Homo sapiens: one gene and its partners. The protein of the gene in region 6 interacts with the protein of the main gene of each other region in a biochemical or structural test. Each region holds a gene or a part of one and is shown on either strand. Other genes may lie near its edges.

What was found.
Region 1: the proteins of SIRT1 (region 6) and CTTN form a complex in vitro, tested with the Homo sapiens proteins (one study listed by BioGRID).
Region 2: of the proteins of SIRT1 (region 6) and BRIP1, one has a biochemical effect on the other in vitro, tested with the Homo sapiens proteins (one study listed by BioGRID).
Region 3: the proteins of SIRT1 (region 6) and BAZ1B form a complex in vitro, tested with the Homo sapiens proteins (one study listed by BioGRID).
Region 4: the proteins of SIRT1 (region 6) and CLOCK form a complex in vitro, tested with the Homo sapiens proteins (one study listed by BioGRID).
Region 5: the proteins of SIRT1 (region 6) and BCL11A form a complex in vitro, tested with the Homo sapiens proteins (one study listed by BioGRID).
Region 7: the proteins of SIRT1 (region 6) and NMNAT1 form a complex in vitro, tested with the Homo sapiens proteins (one study listed by BioGRID).

The regions. Positions count from the first base shown.
Region 1 is NC_000011.10:70,415,140-70,419,352, forward strand, and holds part of CTTN (src substrate cortactin), read left to right. Parts: intron 1-523; coding exon 524-578; intron 579-1,873; coding exon 1,874-1,984; intron 1,985-4,213.
Region 2 is NC_000017.11:61,776,379-61,780,591, forward strand, and holds part of BRIP1 (Fanconi anemia group J protein), read right to left. Parts: intron 4,024-4,213; coding exon 3,883-4,023; intron 2,401-3,882; coding exon of another isoform or gene 2,362-2,400; exon of another isoform or gene 1,868-2,361; intron 1,802-1,867; coding exon of another isoform or gene 1,742-1,801; intron 185-1,741; coding exon 23-184; intron 1-22. UniProt on the Homo sapiens protein: DNA-dependent ATPase and 5'-3' DNA helicase required for the maintenance of chromosomal stability. Acts late in the Fanconi anemia pathway, after FANCD2 ubiquitination.
Region 3 is NC_000007.14:73,473,439-73,477,651, forward strand, and holds part of BAZ1B (tyrosine-protein kinase BAZ1B), read right to left. Parts: coding exon 3,430-4,213; intron 1-3,429. UniProt on the Homo sapiens protein: Atypical tyrosine-protein kinase that plays a central role in chromatin remodeling and acts as a transcription regulator. Involved in DNA damage response by phosphorylating 'Tyr-142' of histone H2AX (H2AXY142ph).
Region 4 is NC_000004.12:55,536,496-55,540,708, reverse strand, and holds part of CLOCK (circadian locomoter output cycles protein kaput), read left to right. Parts: intron 1-4,213. UniProt on the Homo sapiens protein: Transcriptional activator which forms a core component of the circadian clock.
Region 5 is NC_000002.12:60,466,274-60,470,486, forward strand, and holds part of BCL11A (BCL11 transcription factor A), read right to left. Parts: intron 2,561-4,213; coding exon 2,459-2,560; intron 1-2,458. UniProt on the Homo sapiens protein: Transcription factor. Associated with the BAF SWI/SNF chromatin remodeling complex. Binds to the 5'-TGACCA-3' sequence motif in regulatory regions of target genes, including a distal promoter of the HBG1 hemoglobin subunit gamma-1 gene.
Region 6 is NC_000010.11:67,901,656-67,905,868, reverse strand, and holds part of SIRT1 (NAD-dependent protein deacetylase sirtuin-1), read right to left. Parts: intron 1-4,213. UniProt on the Homo sapiens protein: NAD-dependent protein deacetylase that links transcriptional regulation directly to intracellular energetics and participates in the coordination of several separated cellular functions such as cell cycle, response to DNA damage, metabolism, apoptosis and autophagy.
Region 7 is NC_000001.11:9,977,549-9,981,761, forward strand, and holds part of NMNAT1 (nicotinamide/nicotinic acid mononucleotide adenylyltransferase 1), read left to right. Parts: intron 1-3,482; coding exon 3,483-3,622; intron 3,623-3,707; coding exon of another isoform or gene 3,708-3,751; exon of another isoform or gene 3,752-4,213.

The DNA of each region.
Region 1 (4,213 bases), on a different chromosome or scaffold from region 6:
GGGAGCAGGGAGCTGATGCTGGTCGCAGATTGTGGCTTTGTGACATATTAGCCACGGTTCTGAATTTATGTGTCTGTGAAAGGAGGATGATCATACCTATCTCACGGGTGTTTGCTCAGATGCCCATCGCAGTGCCTGGCTGGTGGGAGTGCACCCCTGGTGGCCACTGCTATTCTCATTACTAATACTAATGTTCTCAGCATGACTTATTTGAGAAGCGAGTTTTTGTGAAGCCCGTGGAATGAATCAGCTGAGCATTCCCTGCTGCCGCATGCTGGGGAGGGCAGGTCACCAGGGATATGGCTTGGCCTGCGCCGCCCACTGGGCCTTGCAGTGGGCCTGTCCGTTTAGGATGCCAGAGCTCTTGCGTCACTGCCACCTGCACCTGGCTTAGGAACCCAGAGGTCACAGCATCATGTGTTTCATATTTTTTTAAATGTCATGTCATGAATTCAGAGAGATTGTTTCAGGGACATTGGAAAGTATTTCTCCCCACTTTTTCATGTGTTTTTGGTCGTCACAGTCTGCTGTAGGCTTTGAATACCAGGGGAAGACTGAGAAGCATGCCTCCCAGAAAGGTAAGACGCGAAAGGTGCAGAAAGAGCCCGCTCCGGGGGCCCCGATGGGGAGAGTCACAGCCACCTGAAGCCGTTTCCCCGCGCTCCGGGGGCCCTGATGGGGAGAGTCACAGCCACCTGAAGCCGTTTCCTGAGCGGTGGCTGTTGCCACAAGGAGGACTCTGCCCTCCTCTTCATGTTTCTGGATCATCTGGATACCACATGATGGATGTATTCCCCGTTACACATCCCCCTCGGAGCCCTGGCATCTGCTGTCATTGTGGGGCTTCTCCCCCTTGTAGCGGAAGCCGCCTTCCCTTCATCTGGGCAGCGCTCCTCCTGGAAAAGAGAGCTCACAGATTGATCGGCAGAAAGCTAACTTCCCCCCAAGGCTAGAAACCAGAGTTGTTAAATTCTTGTTTTCCTTATACACATACGGTCTTAACTGCTGGTGATTAATCTTGATTACATCATGCAGTCTCTTTTTTGAAAGACCAAAGCATATCGCCACCTTAAAGTTCTCAGTTTATTTTTTGCAAGCTTATTTAGTTCTTCCTCCTTTGTGTCATTGCATCATCCGCGGAACAAGCTCTCAGTCCTTACGCAGTCTCGGTGCAGTCTAGGTGGAGGTAGCTGTGGTGTGGGCAGGCGGAGGATCAGGGTCTTGTCTCCCATGTTCAGCTGCATGGCTTTCTTCATATGAGGCTTTCTCTTTCCATTTTTTTCATTTTGTTTTGTTTGTTTGTTTGTTTTGAGACAGAGTCTCGCTCTGTTGCCCAGGCTGGAGTGCAGTGGCACGATCTCGGCTCACTGCAACCTGCGCCTCCTGGGTTCAAACGATTCTCCTGCCTCAGCCTCCCAAGTAGCTGGGATTACAGGTGTGTGCCACTACCCCTGGCTAGTTTTTCTATTTTTTAGTAAAGATGGGGTTTTGCCACGTTGGCCAGGCTGGTCTCAAACTCCTGGCCTCAAGTGATCCGCCCACCTCAGCCTCCAAAGTGCTGGTTCTTTGTATGAAGCTTTCCAGCTTTTACCTGAGCAGTTGATTTTCAAAGTGGGCATGCAGCGTCATTTCTGACTACACAAAGGAACTGCCCTGTAACAGCTGACAGGGCCCAGAACCCCCCCATGCACCTGTTGTGAAACAGGGTCCAGCGTCACCTGTATGGAGCAGTGGGTGGCTTGTTGTACATTTTAAAATGTGCGCTTGATGTGTTTGTGAGTTGTAACCCCTACACACTTTTGCTTAGTTTAACAAAAGGAACAGTGTAGTTCGTCCTCAGGCCCCCGTGCTAATTGCTGCCCTGTCTCTCCAGACTACTCCAGTGGTTTTGGCGGCAAGTATGGCGTGCAGGCCGACCGAGTAGACAAGAGCGCGGTGGGCTTCGACTACCAGGGCAAGACGGAGAAGCACGAGTCACAGAGAGGTGGGGCGGACCCCACGGTCTGTAATCACGCGTTTGCTCCAGAAACACCCACGAGGGCATTTTCTCTCTGCACACGTGATTGTTGTAGATTTTTTAACTGAAAATGTTTGGTGTTCTTTTCGTACCAGTGTATGTGGGCTTTTCCTAATTCGAATGGCTGCACAGTTCCCCATCGTATGAGGATTCCATAGTCCATGTAACCATTCCTTTTTTGAATGTGGAATTTAGGTTATTTATTTATTTATTTATTTATTTTTGGTAGAGATGAGGTCTTGCCGTGTTGCCCGGACTGGTCTTGATCTCCGTGGTCTCAAGCAATCCTCCCCCACCTTGGTTTCCTTAAGTGCTGGGATTACAGGTGTGACCTGTAAATTTTTTTTTTTTTTCTTTTAGACGGAGTCTCGCTCCGTTGCCCAGGCTGGAGTGTAGTGGCGTGATCTCTGCTCACTGCAACCTCCACCTCCCTGGTTCAAGCAATTCTCGTGCTTCAGCCTCCCGGCTAGCCGGGATTACAAGCACACGCCACCACGCCCAGCTAATTTTTGTATTTTTAGTAGAGACGGAGTTCTGCCATGTTGCCCAGGCTGGTCTTGAATTCCTGACCTCAGGTGATCGCCCTGCCTTGGCCTCCCAAAGTGCTGGGATTACAGGTGTGAGCCACTGCGCCCAGCTGAAACTTGACTGCAGGGAACATTCTTGTACCTGTGTTTTGTTCACAAGTGATTATTCAAAAGAATCAACTCCTAGACATGGAATTGCTGGGTCGAAGGCTATTGAATGTAAAATTTCCATAGATACTGCCAAGTTGTCCTTGGAGGCTGTGCTGAGTTCTTCCTTCCCCACTGCATAGCCTGTACACCATCACTCAGAGCGTTTCCCAGGGCTGCAGAGGCTGTGGCCTGCCTGTTTCCCTGTGCCTCTTGTTTGGCCTGCACATTTAAATTTTTAAAAATATTTGCCAACATTTGAAAAGTGAGAGCTTGACTATTTAAAAACTCAAAAAAAAAAAAAATTACCCCAAAGCAAGAAACACCACTGGAAGATCCGACCATGCTGGCTTGGCATTTCCCTGAGGAAAGTGCCGGTGGCCTGGAGGGCAGCTTGGCTTGTAGTTTGTCGCGGCCTGGCCTGGCCTTGCCTTCCTGCCGGTCAGGCCTTGCCTGCCGCACAGAGCTGCTTGCCTCTGCTCTCTGCCTCTTTCCTGGGAACAGTCCATTCCTCCTCTTCCCGACACCACACAGTTGTGAGCAGCGCATGCTCCGCGAAGCTGCATGAGTGTGTGACTCCAGGGAGCCAGGGAGCACAGGCCGAGCACCTGGGCAGACGCAAGGCTCCTTGGATGCTTCAGGCCTTCTCTCCCAGGCCTTGATCCTCTGCCTTGTGCTGTTAGTGGGTCCATGAGAGAGTCATGTTTTGGTGTCACAGTGACATGCTAAATGGCTTCATTCTGAGTAGAACTGAAGTTTCTGGAGGATGCTGTGTGTGTCCTATTTCCTGGCATCCCCCTGCGTGCTTCAGTTTGTGAAGAGTGGCCTTTGAAAGCCTTGCCCTTCTGCTGCCTCCTGAGCTTAGAGCCTTATCATAAACTCTCATCTCCTGCTAGCTTCTGGATGCAATGGATGATGTTACAGGAATTCATCTGCTGTACTTTATTTCTTTTTTTTTTTTTTTTGAGACGGAGTCTCTCTCTCTCGCCAGGCTGGAGTGCAGTGGTGCGATCTCAGCTCAGTGCAACCTCCTCCTTCCGGGTTCAAACAATTCTCCTGCCTCAGTCTCCTGAGTAGCCGGGATTACAGGCATGCACCACCAAGCCCAGCTAATTTTTGTATTTTTAGTAGAGGCGGGGTTTCACCATGTTGCCCAGGATGGTCTTGATCTCTTGACCTCATGATCCGCCCACCTTGGCCTCCCAAAGTGCTGGGATTACAGGTGTGAGCCACTGTGTCCAGCCTCTGCTGTACTTTAAAAAAAAAAACTTTTTTTCTTAATTCTTTTTTTTTTTTTGAGATGGAGTTTCACTCTTGTTGCTCAGGCTGGAGTGCAGTGGCGCAATCTCGGCTCACTGCAACCTTCACCTCCTGGGTTCCAGTGATTCTTCTGCCTCAGCCTCCCGAGTAGCTGGGATTACAGGTGTGGGCCACCACGCCCAGCTAATTTTGTATTTTTAGTAGAGATGGGGTTTCATAATGTTGGTCAGGCTGGACTTAAACCCCTGACCTCAGGTGATCC
Region 2 (4,213 bases), on a different chromosome or scaffold from region 6:
GAAACAATAAATATTCCCTTACCTTGTAAGATGGCAAGAAACACAAAATTCCTTGGCTCACAGTCTGGCACACAGATAACAAAAGTGCTCCCACTTCATCTTGGAACTCAAATGTTTCAGTATTCTGGAAGGTAGCACAGAGATTCCGACCCTTGGGGCCTGACCCAATGGTACCAACCCAAACCTAGAATATGAATATGTCATTATTAGAGTTATGCCTGAAAAAGGCATGGAAATTAGTATTTATTTGGAAGTATGTACATAAAAGATCAAGCAACAAGTTTAACAATTTATTTTTAAATTGTCAGGGGGTTTTCTATTACCTTCAATTAACTGTATACAGATTTAATTTATAAATGTTTTGCTTTAGGCAGATCACTAAATTCTCTTAGAGTGAAAATTCTTTGAAAGCAAAACAGGTTGTACCTGTCTCTGTTTACTTAATAGCTTTGCAAAATTTAAGCATGTAACAAATTTTTGTTAGGTGAATAAATGAACAAGTGAAATGATGAATATATACCAATAGCAGAATCAGATAATTCCAAAATACTGGGGATGAAGGCCAGTATAATTTGCCATAGGCAAGTCTCAAAAATGACAGGAACTACTCTTTCAAAAATTCATTGGTGCTCAAAGATCCTTAGTCATAGAAAAAAATCACACCCACCACATCTTACAGTTATTTGCAATTCTATCTCCCTTATATGTAGAGAGAGGGAGAGAGACGAAAATTTTGCAAAATGTTAACAAGTGATGAATCTAGGTGAAGGATATAAAGATATTCACAATATTAATATTATCTTTCCAACTTTTCTGAAATTTCTAATTTTTTGAAATACAGTTGAAAGAATCAATGAATGAATGATCAAAATGTAGCATTGAGTAGAAAAAAACAAACTTTTTCCTTTGCTCTCACACCACAGCAATCAACACAGAAAACTTCTGTGACCAAATGTGTGGGAGGTTTTTTCCACATACCAAGCAATCAATTCTGCAACAGACATCAACTGGGTGTCCTCTAATTCAATTCAATTCTGATACTATCTACTGGGAGATGATAACTTCAGATCCCAGAGGTTGAGGGCTCAGTCCCCAAGACTGCCCCTGATTTCTGTGGCCAGTCACAGTTGTTTTTACTTGCACTTCTGACTGATCAGCTAGAAATCGGGCATCCCACAACCCTCTGCTTGGGTTCAATTAATTTGGTAGAGCTGCTCACAGAACCCAGGGACACATTTACCTACACTTACTGATTTATTAGAAAAAATATTACAAAGGATACAGATAAAGAGATGTATGTGGGAAGGGGCTCAGAGCTTCAATTCCCAGGCACATCACCCTCCAAGTGTTCAGGAACCTCCAAGTGTTCAGCTATCTGGAAGCTCTCTGAACCCTGTCCTTCTAGGTTTTTATGGAGGCTTCATTATGTAGGCATGATTGATTAAACCACTGGCCATTAAGATAAACTTAACCTTTAGCATCATCTCCCCCAAGCCCTCCCCAGAGGTTGAGGAATGGGGGTGAAAATCCCAACTCTCCTATCATGTCTTGGTCTTCCCGGAGGCCAGCCCTGATCCTGATGCTACCTAGGAGCCCCCTACCATTAGTCATCTCATTAGCATACAAAATGTCACTTTGGAGATTCTAAGGATTTTAGGAGTTGTATGCCAGGAAATGGAGTGGAAGACCAAATATATATATTATAAATCACAGGCATATACACACAAGAAACATTATTCACCTTTAAAGAGGAAACTCTGGCACATGCTACAACATAGATGATGAACTTTGAAGACATTATCTGCAACATGGACAAACCTTGAGGACATTACTAAGTAAAATAAGCCAGTCACAAAAACGACAAATATTTTATGATTCCACTTATATGAAGTATTTATAGTAATCAGATTCATAGAAACAGAAAGCAGAATGGTAGTTACCAGGAGCTGAGGAGAGGGGGAGAATAGAGAGCTGTTGTTTAATGGGAACAGAGTTTCAGTTTTTCAAGAGGAGAAAGTCTTGAGATTGGTTGCACAACAACATATACATACTTAATAAGACTGAGCTGTATACTCAAAAATGGTTAAGATGGTAAATTTTATATATATTCTACCACAATTAAAAGTTTTTTAAATTTTAAGTTGAAGGAAAATATTACAGTGTAACAGAATCCAGCTGCACAACTACATTATTATAATTCAGCGACATTATAGGTTAAATGGACTTTTGTGCAGTAGGCTGAGAACATAGAGCCTGTAATAACATTCTTATGAGAAAACGTATGCTGAATTTACCAACTTCCCATATTTATCTGTGTCTCTAAAGAAAGCAACTTGAAAACGTGGAACATGTATTCTTCCTTCACTGCTGTTCATAGTCACATTTCTCAGCAGGAACACTCTGGCATTTGGAAAGCACAATTCTTAGTTACATAGGAGTAGCATTCTAGGTTCCCAACTACCAAATGCCGTAGTTGCTCCCAAGTAATTGTGAGGACCAAAAATGTTCCCACCTATAAACCTGTGTATATAGCTTAATAAAGAGCTAGCATTGTGTTAGGCACACAGGTGATGTTAACTTAACCACTTTAGCATTAACCACAGCTTAACATCACCTGTGTGCCTAACCACTTTAAAATATTTCATAAAAAGAAACCAGAAGGCATAATGAAAAATAACAATCTATACATTTCCACAAAAATTAAAATAACATTTAGTAGCCATCGTTATAAAACATTAAAATCTTAAATCATAGGACTCATAAGAGTACTTTTAACTCATTTCAGATATTCAAACATGCTGAACACTTGCTAAATACCAGCTATTAATCTAGGCACAGAGGAAGAACGTGGATGTAAAAGGAAGAATCAGGATACACTGTAGTCTAATGGAAAAGAGAAGCATAAATAATTATACAAGCTGGGCATGGTAGTACATGCCTGTAGTCCCAGCTACTCAGGAGGCTGAGGCAGGTGGACTGCCTGAGCCTGGGAGTTTGAAGCCAGCCTGGGCAACATAGCAAGCGACCTTGTCTCTAAAAAGATAAAGTCTGGCCAAAATGGCAAAACCCCGTCTCTACTAAAAATACAAAAATGTGCCAGGCATGGTGGCATACACCCATAATCCCAGCTACTCAGAAGGTTGAGGCAGGAGAACCGCTGGAACCCAGGAGGCGAAGGCTGCAGTGAGCCAAGATCGCACCACTGCACTCCAGTCTGGGTGACAGAGCAAAACCTTGTCTCAAAAAATAAAAGTAAAAATAAAAATACAGAGATAAAATAAATAAAATATAAATAGGCTGGGCACAGTGGCTCACGCCTGTAATCCCAACACTTTGGGAGGCTGAGGCAAGTGCATCATTTGAGGGCAGGAGTTCAAGACCAGAATGGACAACATGCTGAAACCCCATCTCTACCAAAAAAATAAAAAATTAGCCAGGCGTGCGGCGCACACCTGTAATCTCAGCAACTTGAGAGGCTGAAGCAGGAGAATTGCTTAAACACGAGTGAGCCAAGATCACACCACTGCACTCCAGCCTGGGCAACAGAGCCAGACTCTGTCTCAAAAATCAATCAATCAATAAATAAAACATAATTATACAATGAGAATTAAAGAAATCAAAATTTTGTTTTCATTACAAAACTAAAACTTACTTAGAAGAAGAAGCTGAAATACAGCCTTTTGCATCCCAAGTGACTGGATTATTTCCTTCTGTTGACACATCATTAAGTAGCTGACAGATTTTCTTTTATTGTAAAACTGGAATGTTGAATTTCCTACCAAGATTTACTTGCTGGCACTTCAGGTATCTTCTAACTTGTTTACATAGTTATATTGAAGTAGAAACACTGAAGGCCTTCCAAAAAAAAAAACAACAACTAACCTGTGAATTTTTAATGATATGATTAGCCTCCAGCTGGATAGTAAATGTAACACCAAGTTCTGACGAAAAGGATTTCATTGGTGATAATGTACCAGATGTCAAAACAATGGTCTGAACTTTGCCATTAATATCTGAAAAGGCCTAAAAGAAAACAACATTAGATAAATAAAATTATCTTTAGAAGAGGCTGGGCAAAGTGGCTCACACCTGTAATCCCAGCACTTTGGGAGGCTGAAGCAGGAAGATCGCTTGAGTCTAGGAGTCTGAGACCAGCCTGGGCAATATGGTGAAACCCCGTCTCTACAAAAAATACAAAAATTAGCCGGGCATG
Region 3 (4,213 bases), on a different chromosome or scaffold from region 6:
AGCTACTCAGGAGGCTGAGGCACGAGAATAGCTTGAACCTGGGAGGTGGAGGTTGCAGTGAGCCAGATCGCACCATTGCACTCCAGCCTGAGCGACAGAGCGACGCTCTGTATCCAAAAAAATAAATAAAATGGAAAGTACACATTACATATGTATACTCAGGCACAGTATGCATACATATGCAAAAATATTTCAATGGCCTTAAGTAGTGTAAACTAAAATTTGTTTTAAAAGGAATATACATTTTCTAATGAAAGAACTATTCAAGCCGGGGTTTGGTGGCTCAGGCCTGTAATCCCAGCACTTTAGGAGGCTGAAGCAGGAAGATTGCTTGAGTTTAGGGGTTCAATACCAGCCTCCACAAATAATAAAAAGATTAGCCAGGCGTGCTGACACATGCCTGTAAGTCCCAGCTGCTCGGGAGGCCGAAGTGGGAGGACCACTTGAGCCCAAGAGGTCAAGGCTGCAGTGAGCTGAGATCACACTGCTGCACTCCAGCTTGGGTGACAGAATGAGACCTTGTCTCAAAATAAAATAAAAAAGAAAATGTTGAAAAAGAACAAGCTGGAAGATCAACACTTCCCTATTCCGAAACTTACTACAAAGCAAAGTTATCAAGACAGTGTGGCTTTTACATAAAGACAGACATACAGATCAGTGAAATAGAATTCAGAGTCCAGAAATAAGCCAACGTATCCTACAGTCATATGATTTTTGACAAGCGTATCAAGGCCATTCAATGGGGAAAGGTTTGTCATTTCAAAAAACGGCACTAGGACAACTGGAGAGCCACATGCAAAAAAAAATAAAGCTGGACTTTTACCTTACACTATAAAAATTAGCTGAAAATAAAAGACCTAAATTTCAGAGGCAAAACTATTAAGACATTTGGAAGAAAACAGGAGTAAATCTTCATGACCCTGGATTTGGCAAAAGATCCTTAAATCTAACACCAAATCTATAAGTAACAAAAGAATAAATAGATAAAATGAACCTCATCAAATTTAAAAAACTTTTGTGCTTCAAATGATACTACTAAGAAAGTGAAAGGACAGGCCAGGTGCAGTGGCTCACAGCTGTAATCCCAGCACTCTGGGAGGCCAAGGCGTGCGGATCACCTGAGGTCAGGAGTTCGAGACCTTGCCTGGTCAACATGGTGAAAACCCACCTCTACTAAAAATATAAAATTAGCCAGGTGTGGTGGCACACGCCTGTAATCCCAGCTACTCGGGAGGCTGAGGCAAGAGAATCACTTGAACCCAGGAGGCAGAGGTTTCAGGGAGCTGAGATCACGCCACTGCACTAGCCTGGGCACAAAAAAGAGCGCAACTCCGTCTCCCCCAAAAAAAGTAAAAGGACAACACGCAAAATAGATGAAAATATTTGTAGACCAGGTATCAGACAGAGAATTGTATCTAGAATATATACAGAACTCTTACAACTCAATAATAATCAGATAACTCAATTTAATAATGGGCAAATGATCTGAATACTTCGCCAAAGATACACAGGTGGCCAGGAGACACATGAAAAGATGGTTCAACATCATTAGCCATCAAAGAAATGCAAATCAAAACCACAATGAGATACCATTTCACACCCACTAGTATGACTATCATCAAAAAGTCAGAAAATAACAAGTATTGATGAGGAAGGAGAAAAGTCAGAACCTTTAATTCACTGCTGGTGGGCATGTAAAATTGTGCAGCCACTTTGGAAAACAGTCTGGCAGTTTCTCAGATGGTTAAACATAATCATATGACCCAACAATCTTATTCCGAGGTATTTACTCTAAAGAAATTTAAGTATATGACTACTCAAAAACTCATACATGAATATTTATGGCAGCATTGTTCATAATAGGTAAAAGATGAAAACAATCTAAATGTTTATCAAGTGATGAATGAGAAACAAAACGTGGTATATCCAAACAATGGAATATTATCCAGCCATAAAAGGGAATGAAGTACTAACACATGCTACAACATGGATGAACCTGGAGAACATGCTAAGTGAAAAAAGCCAGCCATAAAAAGGCTACATATTATATGATTGCATTTACATGAAATATCCAGAATAGGTAAATCCATAGATGCAGAGAACAGATTGGTGGTTGCTGGGGGATGTGGACAAGGGAGAAGAGTGAGTGACTTTTGGGTTTTCTTTTAAAAATGTTTTGGGGCCAGGCATGGTGGCTGGCCCGGCATGGTGGCTGGCCGGGCACAGTGGCTCACGCCTGTAATCCCAGCACTTTGGGAGACTGAGGCGGGTGGATCAGGAGTTCGAAACCAGCCTGGCCAACACGGTGAAACCCCATCTCTACAAAAACACAAAAATTGGCCAGGCATGATGGCGCATGCCTGTAATCCCAGCTACTCGGGAGGCTGAGGCAGGAGAATCGCTTGAATCCAGAAGGCGGAGGTTGCAGTGAGCCAAGATCAAACCATTGCACTCTAGCCTGGGTGACAGAGCGAGACTCCATCTCAAAAAAAAAAAAAAAAAAATGTTTTAGAACTAAATAGAGGTGGTCTATTTTGTGACTGGCTTCTTTCACTTAGCATAATGTTTTCAAGATTCATTCATGTTGTAGCATGTAAAACATTATGCTAAGTGAAAGTCACAACAGACTATTTATTATACAATTCCATTTAGAGAAAATGCCTAGAATAGCAAATCTATAGAGACAAAGTAGACTAGTGGTTGCTCAGGGCTGGGGAGGATGGGCGAATGGGGTAATGACAGTTCATGGGTAGCAGGTTTCTTTGAGATGATAAAAATGTTACAAAATTGGCAATGGTTGTACATTATCTGTGACTCTACTGAAAACACTAAATTATACACAATAAGTGAACTAATTATACTGTATGTCGATTATTTCTTAATAAAGCTGCTTTTTAAAAGTTCAGATTCGATGGAGCCATCAAAGCCCAAAATTTTTAAGTTCTTAAATCTTAAAGGACAGATTACTATCTGAGTTGGTGACCGTGCTAGGGGCTTCAAATACCTTGTCAATCAATTTTACAACAATCTTATCAAGCATATGAGGAAAGTGAGGCACGGATAAGTAATCTGCCCAAAGGAACACTGTACAGCTAAGTCAGAGCTAGAACCTGAACCCAGGTCAGTCAACTCCCAAGTCCTATGTTGTTTCCACTATTTCTATTTGTAGATTTGGTCCTTTACTGAACCCAGAAAAGATGCCAACATCACATTAACTTATTAACTAATCAGAATGCCAGGCTGAACACTCCAGCTGAAATATGAAATTATCAACAGAACTAATAAAAAATAAAATACATACCAATAGGTGCTGGGTTATTACATACAGAAATAAGTAAACAAACAGAGACCCTACCATTACCTCAGTAATTTCCTTTCTTTTACTATCTTCTACAGAGCTTCCCCTTTTCTCTCAGCATGAAATTTTACCTTTCATTTCTCTTTCCTGGATTTCCCGTTCCTTCTTAGCTTGAATGGCAAGCAACCTTCTGCTCTTCACAGCACTAATCATGTCTTCAGCTTCTGTATCTACTTGGGGCTCAAACTTCACAATTTCTTTTTTCCTATCAGTTTTGCCTAACCCATTCTCAACTTTTCCATTTTCTTTATTTTTGGCTTCCATTTCTTTCCGTTTCTGTTTCTCTGCTCTCTTCTTATCATTTTCTTCCTTCAACACAGCAAGCCGTTCCTTCCACAACTCTGCAGACATCTGCTGTCTGGTCTCCATGTGGTCTTGCACTGAGTATGTCATGAGGATCCGGTGGCACAGTGCTGTCAAGATCTGTAGCTTCTCCTCTGACGTCAGCTCAAAAAATTCAGAGGTCTCCAGCTTTTCTAGGAACTCATCTTGTACCTCATTATCCTCAAATGCAGCTGAATCTTTATTGTCATCTGTGTCTGAGCCCTCGCTTTCCTCCTGAACATCAGATCTGCGCAAGCAGAGCCGCACCAGCTCTGAAACAGAATGCAGAGTCAAGGGGATTTCCGACAGCTTCATTCCCAATTCACCATAGTCTTCTGCTATCTCATCTTGTAGGAGGGTCTGTAAGAGGATGACCAACACCCTGTTAAGGTATAAAAAGCCACCCTTATCTGCACTCAAGGCTTCCATAAGGGACACAGCAGTAATAGGATACTGAGCATCTGGTAAAAGTAGCCCAGAATAACAGCTCAAGAATTCCACCACCATGGCCACATCCCCAAACAGCGTGTT
Region 4 (4,213 bases), on a different chromosome or scaffold from region 6:
GAAGCTGCGTGCTTGGTTGAAGAGGACAACCATCCCAAATAGAGGAGGACTGGTCTTGGGTCAAGGGTATACGAGCAGCTGCGCTCCCCTGCTAGAACCTTCGAGCAAGCTCTCAAGGTCCAAATAGTGGAAAATGAAAGTACAGGTTGATTCATGTTGGCAGGTTTTGGTATCAAAAAAAAATTAAAAAGCACACATGGGGGATATACCAATAAAGGTTAGACCATATGCCTAGCTAAGAACTTATCATTTGTATTAAAATATGGTTTAATGTAAAGAGTTGCCTTTCTCCATTCCCCCCTCCCCTCCCCTCCCCTCCTCTCCCCTCCTCTCTTGCCCCCAATTAAAAAATAGCACATCCCTAATGTGGGAAACAGTAAGAAAGCATAGATTACATTTTAGGCAGGGCACAGTGGCTCACACCTGTAATCCCAGCACTTTCGGAGGCTGAGGTGGGTGGATCACTTGAGGTCAGGAGTTTGAGACCAGCCTGGCCAACATGGTGAAACCCTGTCTCTACTAAAAGTACAAAAATTAGCCGGGCATGGTGGCGGGTGCCTGTAATCCCAGCTACTTGGGAGGCTAAGGCAGGAGAATTGCTTGAACCCAGGAGGCAGAGGTTGCAGTGAGCAGAGATCACGCCATTGCACTCCAGCCTGTGCGACAGATCAAGACTCAGTCTCAAAAAAAAAAAAAAAAAATTAATATCATTGGAGATCATACCACCGAAAGTGCTGTTGTTAATCTTCTTGATTATCTATCTGCTTCCTGCATTTTGTTGAGCCATTACATAAGTATATGTATACTTATATGATGTTATGGGCTCCTAATGTAGTCCACTGCAGTGCAAGCTGTTCAGTTAACAGTGAATCATCAACATATTTTCATGTCAGTATTTTTCTGCTATGTGATTATTTTTAGTAGGTATGTAACATTCTCATCTCTGTGTAATAATTTACTTATCAATCTTCTGTTGGACATTGAAGTTGTTTTCAATTTTTAGGATAATAATACTGTCACTTCCCTATATCATGCATTTTGATACTGGCCTACCTAGTATCAGTGATTTTTTCTATTTTTGTTTCTCTGAAAATATCTCAATTTCACCTTTTTTTTTTTTTTTTTTTTTTTTTTTTGAGACAAGGTCTCACTCTGGCACCCAGGCTGGAGTGTAGTGGTGTGAACATGGCTCACTGTAGCCTCAACCTTTTGGGCTCAGGCAATCCTTCACCTCAGCCTCCTCAGTAGCTGGAACCACAGGCACATGCCACCATGCCCAGCTAATTTTTAAATTTTTTGTATAGGCGGGGTCTTGTCATGTTGCCCCGGCTGTTCTTGAACTCCTGGGCTTAAGAGATCCCCCCACCTTGGCCTCCCAAAGTGCTGGGTATAGGTGTGAGCCACCATGCACGGCAGTTTCACCTTTTTTGAAGTGGTTTTTGGTGTTTTTTTTGTTGTTGTTGTTGTTGTTTTTTTGAGACAGTCTCGTTCTGTTGCTTAGGCTGGAGTGCAGTGGCGTGATCTGAGCTCACTGCAGCTTCTGCCTCCTGGGTTCAAATGATTCTCATGCCACAGCCTCCTGAGTAGCTGGGATTACAGGCATGTGCTACCATACCCAGCTAAATTTTTTGTATTTTTAGTAGAGATAGGATTTTGCCATGTTGGCCACGCAGGTCTCCAAACTCATGGCCTCAAGTGATCTGCCCACCTTGGCCTCCCAAAGTGCTAGGATTACAGGCATGAGCCACTGTGGCTGGCCTGAAGTGTGTTTTCACTGGCTATTAAGTTCTAAGTTGGTAGTTATTTTCTTTCAACACATTAAGAATGTTTGGTTGCTTTCTGTCTTCCTTTCTTTTTGTTGAAGTCAGCTACCAGTCTTATTGAAGGCAATGTATTAGCTATATTCTTGCTGAGGATAATGTGTCTTTTATTTTTCCTTGGCTAATTTTAAGACTCTCTGTGTTACTTTTAAAGCACTTTGATGTGTTCAGATGTGGTTTTCTTTGTTGCTTTATGTTTATAGAGTTTTTTGAATCTAGCTGGATGCCTTTTAGTTTTGGAAAGTTCTGTTACCACCTTTTCATATATTCTGCCCCTTTTTTCTTTTTGGATCCTAATTACACATATATTAAACTTAATTATCATGTTCCACATGTTGAAAAAAATTTTTTTCTCTGTTTGGATATTTTCTATCGACCTGCCTTCCAGTATGCCAAAACTATCTTCTCTTTTTGTCAAAATAATCTTTTGTGTTCTTAATTTTACATTGTGGTTTTGAGTTCTAGAGTATTCCTTTGATGTTGTTTTATAGACTTGTAATAGACTCCAGTTCTCTTGAACATACTAATTATAGTTATTTAAATGCTTGTCTTTTCCAATATCGGCATCATCTATTGGTCTGTTTATCTTGTTTGTTTTTCTGTTGGTTATTGGTCATATGGTTGTATTGTTCCGTCTCTTCACATGCCTGATAAGTTTTCGAAGGAACTTACCCATTTCATTTAACTTGTTGCATTTATTGCAAAAAGTTGCTTATAATACTCTATTATTGTTCTTTTAATATCTGTAGAAAGTGTAATGAGTCTAATATCTGTATAACCTGTAGAGATTTAGTATCATTCCGAATACTAGTAATTTGTCTCTGCTCCCCTTTTCCCTGATTAGTCTGGCTAGAAGTTTATTAATTTTATTGAGGTTCTTAAAAAGTTAACTTTTAGTTTAATTGACTGCCTGTGGTTTTCTTATTTCCGCCCTGGTCTTTATTTCCTTTCCTCAGCTTACTTTTGGGTTTAATTTGTTTTCTTTTTCTGGTTTCTTAAGATAGAAGCTGAGGTCATTGATTTGTGACCTTTTTTCTTTTCTAATGTAAGCATGCTATAAACTTCCCTTTAATTGTTTATAATTTATTTATTTGTTTTTTGAGACAAGGTCTCACTACTGCTCAGGCAGTACAGTATCGTGATCATGGCCCATTGCAGCCTTGACCTCTCAGGCTCAAGTGATCCTCCCACCTCAGCCTCCTGAGTAGCTGGGACTGCAGGCATGTGCCACCATGCCTGGCTAATTTTTTATTTTTATTTTTATTTTTTTGAGACTGGGTCTCACTCCGTTGCCTAGGCTTTAGTGCAGTGGCCCAATCACGGGGTCACCACAGTGTCGACGTCTCAGGCTCAAGAGATCCTCGCACCAGAGTCTATTAAGTGCTGGGATTACAGGCGCGTGCCATCATGCCTGGCTAATTTTTGTATTTTTTGTAGAGATAGGGTTTCACTATGTTGCCCAGGCTGGTCGTCAACTCCTGAGCTCAGGCAATCCACTTGCCTCAGCCTCCCAAAGTGCTAGGATTACAGGTGTAAGCCACCACACCTGGCCAGAGTTTATTACAATTTTTTCTGAAGACAAGGATGTCACTGTGTTGCCCATGTTGGTCTTGAACTCAGTTCAAGCAATCCTCTTTCCTTGGCCTCCTGGAGTGCTGGGATACAGATGTGAGCCTCCACTCCTGGCCGTTTCCAGTTTTTGATATGTTTCCATTTTCATTCCATTCAGAGTACTTTATAATTTCTTTCCTGATGTCTTACTGGGTCTATAGTTTATTTATAAGTGTGTTATATAGTTTTCAAATATTTGAGGATTTTCCAGAGATCATTGTTATTTTTAATTTAATTCCATTGTAATGAGATAATTTTAAATTTATTCGGATTTATTTTATGGCCTAGAATATATTCTATCATTGTAAGTGTTCTTCATGTGCAGTTGAAAAGAATGTGTGTTTTGTTGTTAGGTGGAGTGTTTTACAAATGTCAGTTAGGTCAAGTCTGTTGATTGTTTTGTTTATGTCTCATAATTTTTTATTGAATGCCAGGCATTGTGTAGTAAAAAACTTAAGTAAGCATTACCAGGTAATGGTACATTTTGCCGGGTTGGGAGAGGGGTGGGGGAAGGGGAAGTTCATTTTCTATGCAGATAGGCTAGGGAGCTGTATTAGTCTGTTTGCATTACTATAAAAGAATACGTGAGACTGGGTAATTTATAAAGAAAAGAAGCTTAATTGGCTTACGGTTCTCCAAAGTGTATAGGAAGCATGGTGCCGGCATCTGCTTATAGTGAGGCTTAGTAAGTTTCTAGTCATGGCTGAAAGTGAAGGGAGAGCAGGTGCATGACAAGGCAAGAGTGGGAGCAAGAGAGCAAGGTGGGGCAGGTCCCAGACTTT
Region 5 (4,213 bases), on a different chromosome or scaffold from region 6:
GCCTCTCAACTCCACCCTCCTCTGAACTGCTCAACTCCCTTCTATCCCTTCCCTCCAAAAGTGGCTCCGTTTCCACAGCCCCATGCAGGCCCCAGATGCCCCCAGCAACAGGAGAGCTCTCCCCACCCAGCCAGCATGCAGGGACTAGAAACCGTGAGCCCAACCTCCTAAACCTTCTGCAATCTGTGACCTAACCCAGGCTTAGGCCCAGCTTGGGGGAAGGGAGCAGATGAGGTGCTTTTAACCCCTGAACCACCCAGCCCTCAGGACCTGAGGGCTTATGAAATTCACACAATAACTCTTTGTTACCTAGGATTACCTAGGAGTTAACAAAAATAAACAACTGGCTTTGAATCTGGTCTCAGGGTGCATGCCCTGCTCTTCAGATACCATTTACAAGATGGGTAAGTGTCATCTCCCTCCCATCTAAAAACAGTCCCCCTTAGAGCCTTAACTCTGGCATCTTGCTCTTTGTTATTCTCTCTCCATGACCTTTTTCCTTTTCTTTTTTTTTCTTTCCACAGCAGGTTATTTTTCATTTACTTTCAAATAAAAATTAGATGTCACACTTCTTTTCTTCTTGAACCTGCTTTTTTGTGTTTAGGGTGGAATCACTGCCCACCCCCTAACCTTTTAGCCATGCATGATTCATACCATGTGTTCCTACACAGAGAAGCAAACTGTATTATTTTCTAAAACAGTATCTTTCAGAAAACATTTGTATAAATGGACAAATTTAAGTTTCATAAAATGGTCCCTACTATAAAAGCTCACTTGAACAAGTAAATGGTGGTGGCAGTGGTGGTGGTGGTGGTGGTGGTGATGATGGTGGTGGTAGTGGTGGTGGTGGTGGTGATGGTGGTGTTGGTGGTGATGGTGGTGGTGGTGGTGGTGATGGTGGTGGTGGTGGTGGTGATGGTGGTGGTGATGGCGGTGATGGTACTGGTGATGGTGGTGGTGGTAGTGATGGTGGTGGTAATGGTGGTGGTGGTGATGGTGGTGGTGGTGGTAGTGATGGTGGTGGTAATGGTGGTGGTGGTGATGGTGGTGGTGGTGGTAGTGATGGTGGTGGTAATGGTGGTGGTGGTGATGGTGGTGATGATGGTGATGGTACTGGTGGTGATGGTGATGGTGATGGTACTGGTGATGGTGGTGGTGGTAGTGATGGTGGTGGTAATGGTGGTGGTGGTGATGGTGGTGGTAATGGTGGTGGTGGTGATGGTGGTGATGATGGTGATGGTACTGGTGGTGATGGTGATGGTGATGGTACTGGTGATGGTGGTGGTGGTAGTGATGGTGGTGGTAATGGTGGTGGTGGTGATGGTGGTGGTGGTGGTAGTGATGGTGGTGGTAATGGTGGTGGTGGTGATGGTGGTGATGATGGTGATGGTACTGGTGGTGATGGTGATGGTGGTGGTGGTGGTGATGGTACTGGTGGTGATGGTACTGGTGGTGATGGTGGTGGTGGTAGTGATGGTGGTGGTAATGGTGGTGGTGGAGATGGTGGTGTTGATGGTGATGGTACTGGTGGTGATGGTACTGGTGGTGATGGTGATGGTGGTGGTGGTGGTGATGCTACTGGTGGTGATGGTACTGGTGGTGATGGTGGTGGTGGTAGTGATGGTGGTGGTAATGGTGGTGGTGGTGGTGGTGGTAGTGATGGTGGTGGTGGTGATGGTACTGGTGGTGATGGTGGTGGTGGTAGTGATGGTGGTGGTAATGGTGGTGGTGGTGATGGTGGTGGTGGTGGTAGTGGTGGTGATGGTGGTGATGGTACTGGTGGTGATGGTGGTGGTGGTAGTGATGGTGGTGGTTGTGGTGGTGGTGGTGATGGTGGCAGTGGTGGTTGTGGTGGTGGTGGTGATGGTGGTGGTGGTGGTGGTGATAGTAGAGCCTTCACATTTTAACTACAATGATGTGCATTTTTCTCTAAAACCAGGAGAAAAATTAGTCAAAATTATGTGTGGGCATGAATATACAACATATACTATGTTCAAATACACATGTAAATACATAAGGAATATGCATTGGAATAACTCTGGAATAACCCTAAACTGACTCCTTTTGATTCTGGCCTTGGCTAAAGATGTGTGCCATGGACTATACCCAAAGTCCTAAATGAGGCCACAGGAGTGAATGTCCAGTAATAAAATGGGCTCCAGAGGCACAGGCATCTTCAATCACTAGCCACGGAGCAAGACAAGACCCTGGGGAGAAGACCCACAGGGATGAGCTACTATCAGCTCCCAGCCTCCAGTGAGGAAAGAAAAAGGGGAGGGAAGAAGTCCCTCTGGGGCTGAGTGGAGTGGGGAGCGGCTGCCAAGTGAGTAATGGAATAATACATATGACAATCTATTTTGGAAGTAACTCCTTCAGTACTTAAAAAGTAAGGGCAATTTCCAGAAATTCTCATCTCTATACACATGGACATTTGTAGAAGAAATAAGGCTCAACTTACAAATACCCTGCGGGGCATATTCTGCACTCATCCCAGGCGTGGGGATTAGAGCTCCATGTGCAGAACGAGGGGAGGAGAGGCCCCTCCAGTGCAGAAGTTTATCTGTGAAAGAAACCCAAAATCAAGCACTACAGCTACAAACAACGTGCATCATAAACCACAGGATATCACATTTCAATTCCATTAAAATAGATTACAACATCATTACAACAGCCTTGCAGATAGTTAACAGGCCCAAGGCCTGAAACAAAAGAAGAGTGGTGAGTTATTTCCCAGAGTTTCTGTTTTGTTTTCAATTTCGGTCTTTTTGACAAAAGTGAAAGGGTTTGTTTTAGGAAAGGGGAGAGGTGGTCTTTGGTTCATTTGCTTATTTATTTGTTGTTGTTTGATTATTGTCTTGTGGAAAGAAGATGTGTAAGCAGCAAGGGGAAAACTGGTAATATTGTGGGTAGCCTGGAAACATGGGGGGATTTTATCTGCAAGGCTGGTTTACATGCATACATTAACTTTACTTTATAGACAAACCCAAGCAAAAAGCAAAATGCTGATAGGAAATGAGTAGATTTGTGAATCGTTTTTTATGGGACAGAGTCCCACTTTGCTTTCTCTGTCCCTCTGCCCCCCTCTTCCCATGCTATATTTATGATAGCGCCTTCAGTGATAGGGGAAACCTGGGCATTTCTGGACTGAGCTGGGCCATACTCTAGAATCCTGTCAACTGGAAACCTTACACAGATGTGGCTTCTCACAATACAAAGCAATGGAAGATAAAGATTAGACTTCTGGGGTCCAAATAACTTTGACCATTAAATGACAAGGAAAGAACCAGCATTCCAATAATGCCAGCACCCAGAAACCCTGACCCATCTTCACCATTTTACTGCACTTTGTTGTACTCTGGTGAAGACAAGTGACTTCTCACACTAATAAAATGAATCTAATAGTCAATGAAACATTTGTAGCACTGAGATTTTTTTGAGAAGAGGAAAATTTGGTTTGTGCAATCTGGGGATTTTACGGTTTATGTGGTAAGTGCCTAGCTTTTCCAAGTCCTCCTCTAGCTAACTAACCATGTAGCTGTCCATCTTGAGACAGACTGGAGGATAGATGGTGCAGGAGACGCTCTGTGTGTTCTAGAGGTTTGGAGTTCATGATGATTGGGGAGGGCGGGAGACAAGAAAAACAGACTTTGATGGTGAACAAACAGTATGTTTTCCATTAGCTTAATATTAAGAGCACTTAGAAGTGTTGTTGTTGTACTCTAGGATAGCAGGTCTCAAGTGTAAAATACATCCTGTTCTCCTTATATAGAGCACACTGCCAAGCACAGCCAAGGCAGTTGGGACAAGATTTCCTTTCGCAAGGAGCCTGGTGGGTAACGATGGTGTGCTGCTGAGAAGGCTCTTACACAGACAGCATAGGTCTGCTGTTACCAGGCCTGCAGAGGGAAGCCCTGGTGGAAGCACCACCTAGCCTGAGAACATCTACAGAGACATTTCATCCTCTCTGACCCAAAACAAAATAAACACCACAAAGTGAACCAACACAAGCAGGAAGACCGGACTTAACAAACAAGTATGTCTACATTTGACTGTTTACGTCAAGTGAATTGAGAGTGTGGCGTAAAATTACTACAGATTTTGTCATGGTATTTTTCAATGAGAAATCTGAGAATCCATCTTTGCACTTGTTTTTGCCTCAGCCGTTCACTAAGTTTGCTGCCAAAACAGACATCCTTTTCTTAGGAAACACAGG
Region 6 (4,213 bases):
GAATATGTAGCCATTAAAAAGAATTGAGGGAGATCTAGATGAACTGCCCTGGAAAATGGTTCATGACATACGTGAAAAAAGCAAATTAGTCACCAGTATGTGTAACTTTTGTTTTTGTTACTAAGCAAAAATTGAAATTATATGCATATGTATATAGAGATGTCCATTTAATCAATCAAGTCAGGAAGGATACAAACAGGCTGTAAGCAGATGTGGGGAACTTTCACTTCTGACATTATACAAAAAAGTTTAATAGAGATTAAAGATGACTTTTTACCTATTTAATCTTTCAAATTAAAAAAAAATTCCCACTGCAACTTCTAGGTTCTACTACCCAGGCTTCTAAGTAAAACTTAAGTGAATTCCGTTAACAGCTATCACATACATGTACACATGCTGCTAAAAACCTCGTATAAAGAATCCAAAAACGTTGCCTTAGATTCAAATATTTATCACAAATTTCATGAATAACTCTTTGCAATTTAAGAAATAGAGAGTGCATATAGTAGCAAGGGAAAAGCTTAATAAAGTCAATGTTTACAGAAAATCAAAAGCCACTGTTTTGGAAAAGTGAGTTCAGTTAAATCAACCACTGTTTTCTTCCCCAGAATGCTTTGTTCTAGTACATTTACATTTGAGAGATTAAGCATTGTATGTCTCATTAAAGCTCCCTCTGGAAATAGCTTTTAGAGTATTTTAGGCACTATGAGAATATGCTAGGCAACAGATAAAATAGGACCTATAATAGTAAGCAAGTGATAATAGCATGCCAAATGCAGAATTTAAAAAATAAAATAACTCCAAAGCAAGGTCAGGGAAAAAGAGCAAGTACCAAGACTCCACCGTCCCTGAATTAACTGTGTGCCTTATCCACGTCCACCCCCACCCTTTCTAAAGGGTAGAGTAAGAAACACAAAGATGTATGGGACACTAGATTTAGCTCTTATTAATTCAACTACCTTTAAGACAAATCATAAGGGACATTTTTGTTTTATTTTATAAGCCTGCTTTTTTTTTTTTTTTTGAGACAGAGTTTCGCTCTTTTTGCCCAGGCTGGAGTGCAATGGCGCGATCTCAGCTCACCACAACCTCCACCTCCCGGGTTCAAGTGATTCTCCTGCCTCAGCTTCCTGAATAGCTGGGATTACAGGCATGTGCCACCACCCCAGCTAATTTTGTATTTTTAGTAGAGACGGGGTTTCTCCATGTTGGTCAGGCTGGTCTTGAACTCCTGACCTCAGGTGATCCGCCCACCTTGGTCTCACAAAGTGCTGGGATTACAGGCGTGAGCCACTGCACCCGGCCAAGCGTACGTTTTACATATGTGAGAATCTGAATGATTTGAGTCTTTGACTCATACTTTCTGTCAAGTATGAAATGGGCCATGTCTGAATTATTAGATTTAAATATAGTGTTCAAACTAAAAGTAGTAGTACAGGTGTGGTGGCTCACACCTCTAATCCCAGCACTTTGGAAGGCCGAGGCGGGCAGGTTACTTGAGACCAGGAGTACGAGACCAGCCTGGGCAACATGGAGAAACCCTGACTCTACAAAAAACACAAAAATCACAAAAATTAGCTGGGCCTCACGGTTCATGCCTGTAGTCCCAGAAACTCAGAAGGCTGAGGTGGGAGGATCACCTGAGCCCAGGGAGGTAGAGGTTCCAGTGAGCTATGATCGTATCACTGCTCTCCAGCCTGGGTGACAGAGTGAGAGCCTTTAAAAAAAAAAAAAAAAAAAACAAACAAAAAAAACTAAAAAATCTGAAATAATGAAAAAAATTACTCTGGAAGGACTGTTCTAATATACCACTCCTCCTAAGATAGGACCACTTGTTGAAAACCAATGACTGGAGATACAACTTACAGATAGAATATGGATTAACTCTTCCATGGTGAAAGTGTGACATGCTTAGTCCTATTCCAAACAAGACAGGCCACCCAGTTTGAATATCCTAAAGCCTTTTTAAGCAACCAATCATGAGGGCTGGGCCATTCTGTTGCTGCCATAGGGATCCTTATAGACCAAGAGTGGAAGCAGAACTGGAATCAAAGGCTCAAAACACTATTAAAACAAACCCTGCTTTCACATAGCTGTGTCTGGAAACATGCAAATAATCCAGGAATTGGCCATAGGCAACCAACGTGGTCAAAACTAAAGCTTAGAACTATCCGCAGAAATTGGCCGGATGTGGTGGCTCATGCCTGTAATCCCAGCACTTTGGGTGGCCGAGGTCGGCGGATCACAAGGTCAGAAGATCGAGACCATCCTGGCTAAGATGGTGAAACCCCGTCTCTACTAAAAAATACAAAAAAAAATTAGCTGGGCATGGTGGCGGGTGCCTGTAGTCCCACTACTCGGGAGGCTAAGGCAGGAGAATGGCGTGAACCCAGGAGGTGGAGCTTGTAGTGAGCCTAGATCACACCACTGCACTCCAGCCTGGGTGACAAAGAAAGACTCCATCTCAAAAAAAAAAAGAACTATCTGCAGAAATAATGGCTTTTCTGCAGAGATTATGCCTTTCTTTCTTCTCCAAATTTCTAGCAATATGAATAAAAGACCCTAGAGTAAAAGGCATAGGTGTAAATGCAGTCCCTCAAGACTAAGAAAGCTGGGCATGGTGGCACAGGCCTGTAGTTCCTGCTACTGGGGAGACAGAGGAGGGAGAATCACTTGAGTCTGGGAGTTAGGGAGCTGTAGTACTCTATGATCGTGCCAATGGATGGGCACTACACTCCAGCCCGCACAACATAACAAAATTCACACCCACCTTTTTTTTTGAGAGTCTCGCTCTGTCACCCAGGATGGAGTGCAATGGCACAATCTCGGCTCACTGCAACCTCCACCTCTCCTGGGTTTAGGCAATTCTCCCACCTCAGCCTCCCAAGGAGCTGGGACTACAGGTGCGCGCCACCACATTCAGCTAATTTGTTTTTAGTAGAGACAGGGTTTCACCATGTTGGCCAGGCTGGTCTCAAACTCCAGACCTCAGGTGATCCACCTGCCTTGGCCTCCCAAAGTGCTTAGGATTACAGGTGTGAGCCACTGTGCCCAGCCAAAATTCCCTCTTTAAAAATCAGAATTTTTAGAGAATTCATCAAAATTTACTGATGTTAATCTTTGCTGATATCCACCCCCTCCTATATATAGTTCAGATGGAGGCAGTTAAGTAGAGTTGCTGAGAAAATAGAACCTAAACTTTCCTTCCTGTCAAAAAAAGTGAAATGCATCAATCCTGCTAAGGAGAGTCCTCATAATCCCTCCTGTCTCTTTCATTCCACAAAACCACACTTGAATAAACTGCTCAACATCTTAATCAATACTAATAAATTGGTCATATGACAAATTCAACTGTATTTCAATATATAAATAGTATGGCTATGTTCTAATAAAAGTTTGTATTTATGAACACTGACATGAAAATTTTATATAATGTTCAAGTGTCATGAAACAGTTCTTTCAATTTTTTCCCCAGTCATTTAAAATTAATTATTAGCAGGGGGTGGAGGTGGGATTGGGAAGACGCTGGGAAGAATAAGTTCAGGAGATCTATTGCTGACTATAATTAAGAACATATTGTAGCCGGGCGCGGTGGCTCACGCCTGTAATCCCAGCACTTTGGGAGGCTGAGGCAGGCGGATCACCTGAGGTCAGGAGTTTGAGACCAGCCTGGCCAACATGGTGAAACCCTGTCTTTACTAAAAATACAATAACTAGCCGGGCGTGGAGACAGGCGCCTGTAATCCCAGCTACTTGGGAGGCTGAGGCAGGAGAATCGCTTGTACCTGGGAGGCGGAGGTTGCAGTGAGCCAAGATAGCGCCACTGCACTCCAGCCTGGGGACAAGAGCGAGACTTCGTCTCAAAACAAAAACAAAAACAAAAACAAATATTGTATACCTGAAAATTATTAAGAGTACATTTTAAATGTTCTCACCACCAAAAAAAAGTATGTGAAGTAATGAATATTAGCTTGAGTTAGCCATTCCATAATGTACACACATCAAAACATCATGTTGTACACCACATAAACTTTATTTGTTGATTTAAGTAATAAATTAATGCTTAATGCTTAGCTCACAGCCTATACAAAAACATGGAGTGGGCCACATTTGGACTGAGGCCATAGTACGCCAACCCCTGTATTAACCTAACACAAGAGAATGTCAATTAGTTAAACTGCCAGTCGCCACTTAATAAATTTTAGTATGTACC
Region 7 (4,213 bases), on a different chromosome or scaffold from region 6:
TTAAGTACTTAGGCAAAAAGTACTTAAAAGAGCTGAGGCCGGGCGTGGTAGCTCATGACTATAATCCCAGCACTTTGGGAGGCTGAGGCCGGCAGATCACCTGAGTCCAGTAGTTCAAGACAAGCCTGGCCAACATGGTGAAACCCTGTCTCTACTAAAAATACAAAATTAGCTGGGCCCATACCTGTAATCCCAGCTACTAGGGAGGCTGAGGCAGGAGAATTGCCTGAGCCTGGGAGGCAGAGGTTACGGTGAACTGAAATTGTGCCACTGCACTCCAGCCTGGGCAGCAGAATGAGACTGTCTCAAAAAACAACAACAAAAAAAAGTAAAAGGGCTGGAGAAGTGGAAGTCAGGGTCACTCCTCCGATGTTGCCGTCAGAGTTCAACAAACCAATTCCGCTTCTGCTGCTATTGAACTGTCTCAGTCTCCTGAAGTTGGTGACGGACAGTGGACTCCAGCGTCTAGCCACCACACCCACACTAGAAAGGATTACTGGCTATAAATAGCGCAATAATAGGATCAGGCCGGGCATGGTGGCTCACACCTGTAATCCCAGCACTTTGGGAGGCCGAGGTGGGTGGATCACCTGAGGTCAGGAGATCGAGACCACCCTGGCCAACATGGCAAACCCCGTCTCTACTAAAAATACAAAAATTAGCCAGGCGTGGTGGCACATGCCTATAGTCCCAGCTACTTGGGAGGCTGAGGTGGGAGAATCCCTTGAACCCGGGAGGTGGAGGTTGCAGTGAGCCGAGATTGCGCCACTGCACTCCAGCCTGGGTGACAGAGTGAGACTCCGTCTCAAAAAAAAAGATTACTTGTCAGGCTCCACAGTCCCAGGATGATGGCCTCTGTCCTCCTTCTGCCTTCCAAATCTCTCAGGAGAGAATCTCATTAGCAGAAATCGCAGTCAAGTCCACAGCCTGCTGCAAGGACCTCTGGGAAGTGTGTTGGGCAGGATTGGGCACTGAGTCAGTAGGAAGTATCTCACACAGTGATCTCTCAAGAGGACTTCCTTTTCAGACTTGGCAGGGAGAAGAGTCTCCACTGCTTGATGGCAAAAAATTCTCCCATGAGGGAGCAAGTTCCTGGGCCACAGCCCTACCCGACCCTCTGGCTTTATAGTAACCTTATTGCCCATTAAATAGTCAACTCAGCTGCTCAGAAGGGTTGGGATGTAGGGGAATAAAGGCCCACAGTTGGATCCCACAAGTGTAGTTGATGTTATTTGGGTAACATTGCACAGTTTGAAAACAGTGGGCACCCTGCTGCCAGCCCAGAATAGAGCTATACACAAATCCTGCTTAGGGCCCCTTCCTTTAAGGCCTCAGGCCCTTGCCGCTCTAGGACCTTCTCCTTGGCGTTCTGGTTCTTTGTCACAAGATTAAGCCACACTCTTCCATGGTCAAGAGTGTGGGCTCTGGACCAGACTGCTGGGGTTCAAGTCCTGGCTCTGCTATTAATACTTTTAAGTTAAATGACCTTAGGCAAATTAGTCAGTGTCCTCTGTCAATGGGGTAATAAACAATTCTGATATGAGAGATGAGCAGCACATTAAAACCAGAAGTATTTTCAGTGAAACTAGCTGCAAGGTGGCAGTAATATAGTCGCTTTGTAATAACCAAAATGTTCAGGCTGATCATGGTGGCTCACATCTATAGTCCCAGCACTTTGGGAGTCTGAGGCAGGAGGATTGCTTGAGGCCAGGAGTTCAAGACCAGTGTGGGCAACATAGTGAGACCTCATCTCTCCAAAAAACTAAAGTTAGCTGAACATGGTGGCACGTGCCTGTAGTCGCAGCTATCTGGGAGGCTGAGGCGGTAGGATCACTTGAGCCCAGGAGTTTTGGTTGCAGCGAGCTATGATTGTGCCACTGTGCTCCATCCTGGGCAATAGAGTGAGCCTGTGTCTCTGAAAAACAAACCAAAAAAACCCCAAAACATTCACTCAATCAAATTGTTATTGAGGCTGGGCGCAGTGGCTCACGCCTGTAATCCCAGCACTTTGGGAGGCCTAGGCGGGCAGATCACAAGGTCAGGAGATCGAGACCATCCTGGCTAACATGGTGAAACCCTGTCTCTACTAAAAATACAGAAAAAATTAGCCGGGCGTGGTGGTGGGCGCCTGTAGTCCCAGCTACTCGGGAGGCTGAAGCAGGAGAATGGCGTGAACCTAGGAGACGGAGGTTGCAGTGAGCTGAGATCGTGCCACTGCACTCCAGCCTGGGCGACAGAGTGAGACTCCATCTCAAAAAAAAAAAAAAAAATTGTTATTGAATGCCTCCTCATAGACTCTGCTAGGAGCTGGAGTAGCAACTGTAAGCCTCCTTTCTCCTTCCCTTACGGAGATAATAATATTTATGATATAGGATGTTGAGAAGATTTTTTTTTTCTTTTGAGGCGGAGTTTTGCTCTTGTTGCCCAGGCTGGAGTGCAATAGCGCAATCATGGCTCACTGCAACCTCCACCTCCTGGGTTCAAGCGATTCTCCTGCCTCAGCCTCCCGAGTAGCTGGGATTATAGGCATGTGCCACCACACCCGGCTAATTTTCTATTTTTAGCAGAGACAGGGTTTCTCCATGTTGGTCAGGCTGTGTCTCGAACTCCTGACCTCAGGTGATCCACCCGCCTTGGCCTCCCAAAGTGCTGGGATTACAGGTGTGAGCCACCACGCCCAGTCGAGAAGATTTTTAATTTTTTTTAGTCTTCCACAACAGTCATCTTATGTTGAGAAGACTTAATCAGATAATCCATGTAAAGGATTCAGTGTAATGTGTGGCATATGATAAATAATGTTGGCCAGGCACCTATAATCCCAGCACTTTGGGAGGCTGAGGCGGGCAGATCGCTTGAGGTCAGAAGTTCAAGACCAGCCTGGCCAACATGATGAAACCCCGTCACTACTAAAAATACAAAAAAAAATTGGCTGAGCGTGGTGGTGCGCCCCTGTAATCCCAGCTGCTCGGGAGGCTGAGGCAAGAGAATTGTTTGAACCCAGGAGCCAGAGGTTACAGTGAGCTGAGATCACACACTGCACTCAGCCTGGGCGTCAGAGCAAGACACCATCTCAAAATAATAAATAAATAAATAATGTTAATGATATTCTTTTTTTTTTCTTTTTTTGAGATGGAGTCTCACTCTGTCGCCCAGGTTGGAGTGCAGTGGTGCGGTCTTGGCTCACTGCAACCTCTGCCTCCCAGGTTCAAGTGATTCTCCTGCCTCAGCCTCCCGAGTAGCTGGGATTACAGGTGCCCGCCACCACACCCGGCTAATTTTTTGTATTTTTAGTAGAGACGGGGTTTCACCGTGTTAGCCAGGATGGTCTCGATCTTCTGACCTCGTGATCCGCCCACCTCGGCCTCCCAAAGTGCTGGGATTACAGGTGTGAGCCACTGTGCCCAGCTATAAATAATGTTAATGATATATTCTAATGGAGCATGTGAGAAAGAGAAATATTCTATTGTTTTGTTGTTTTATAGACACCATCAAGAGAAATTGGAGGCTAGTGACTGTGATCACCAGCAGAACTCACCTACTCTAGAAAGGCCTGGAAGGAAGAGGAAGTGGACTGAAACACAAGATTCTAGTCAAAAGAAATCCCTAGAGCCAAAAACAAAAGGTTTGTATGTTTTAGCAGGACCCACGGACTAGAGTTGATAAGATTCTGTAGCTGAGCAAACCCCTGTGTATTTTTTTTTTTTTAGATGGAGTCTCGCTCTATCACCCAGGCTGGAGTGCAGTGGCATGATCTCAGCTCACTGCAAGCTCTGCCTCCTGGGTTCATGCCATTCTCCTGCCTCAGCCTCCTGAGCAGCTGGGACTACAGGTGCCTGCCACCACGCCTGTCTAATTTGTTTGTATTTTTAGTAGAGACGGGGTTGCACCATGTTAGCCAGGATGGTCTTGATCTCCTGACCTCATGATCCGCCCACCTCGGCCTCCCAAAGTGCTGGGATTACAGGCGTGAGCCACAGCGCCTGGGCCTTATTTTTTTTGTTTTATAGAGATGGGGTCTCACTATTTTGGCCAGGTTGGTCTTGAACTCCTGGCCCCAAGCAGTCCTCCTGCCTTGGCCTCCCAAAGTGTTAGGATTACAGGTGTCAGCCACTATGCCTGGCCTTTATTTTCATTTTATATTGCATACTTGTGGGTGTCTGGAAAATGCCCCTTGTTAGTTGCATGAAGTGAAGGAGAATAAAAGGCACTTGGA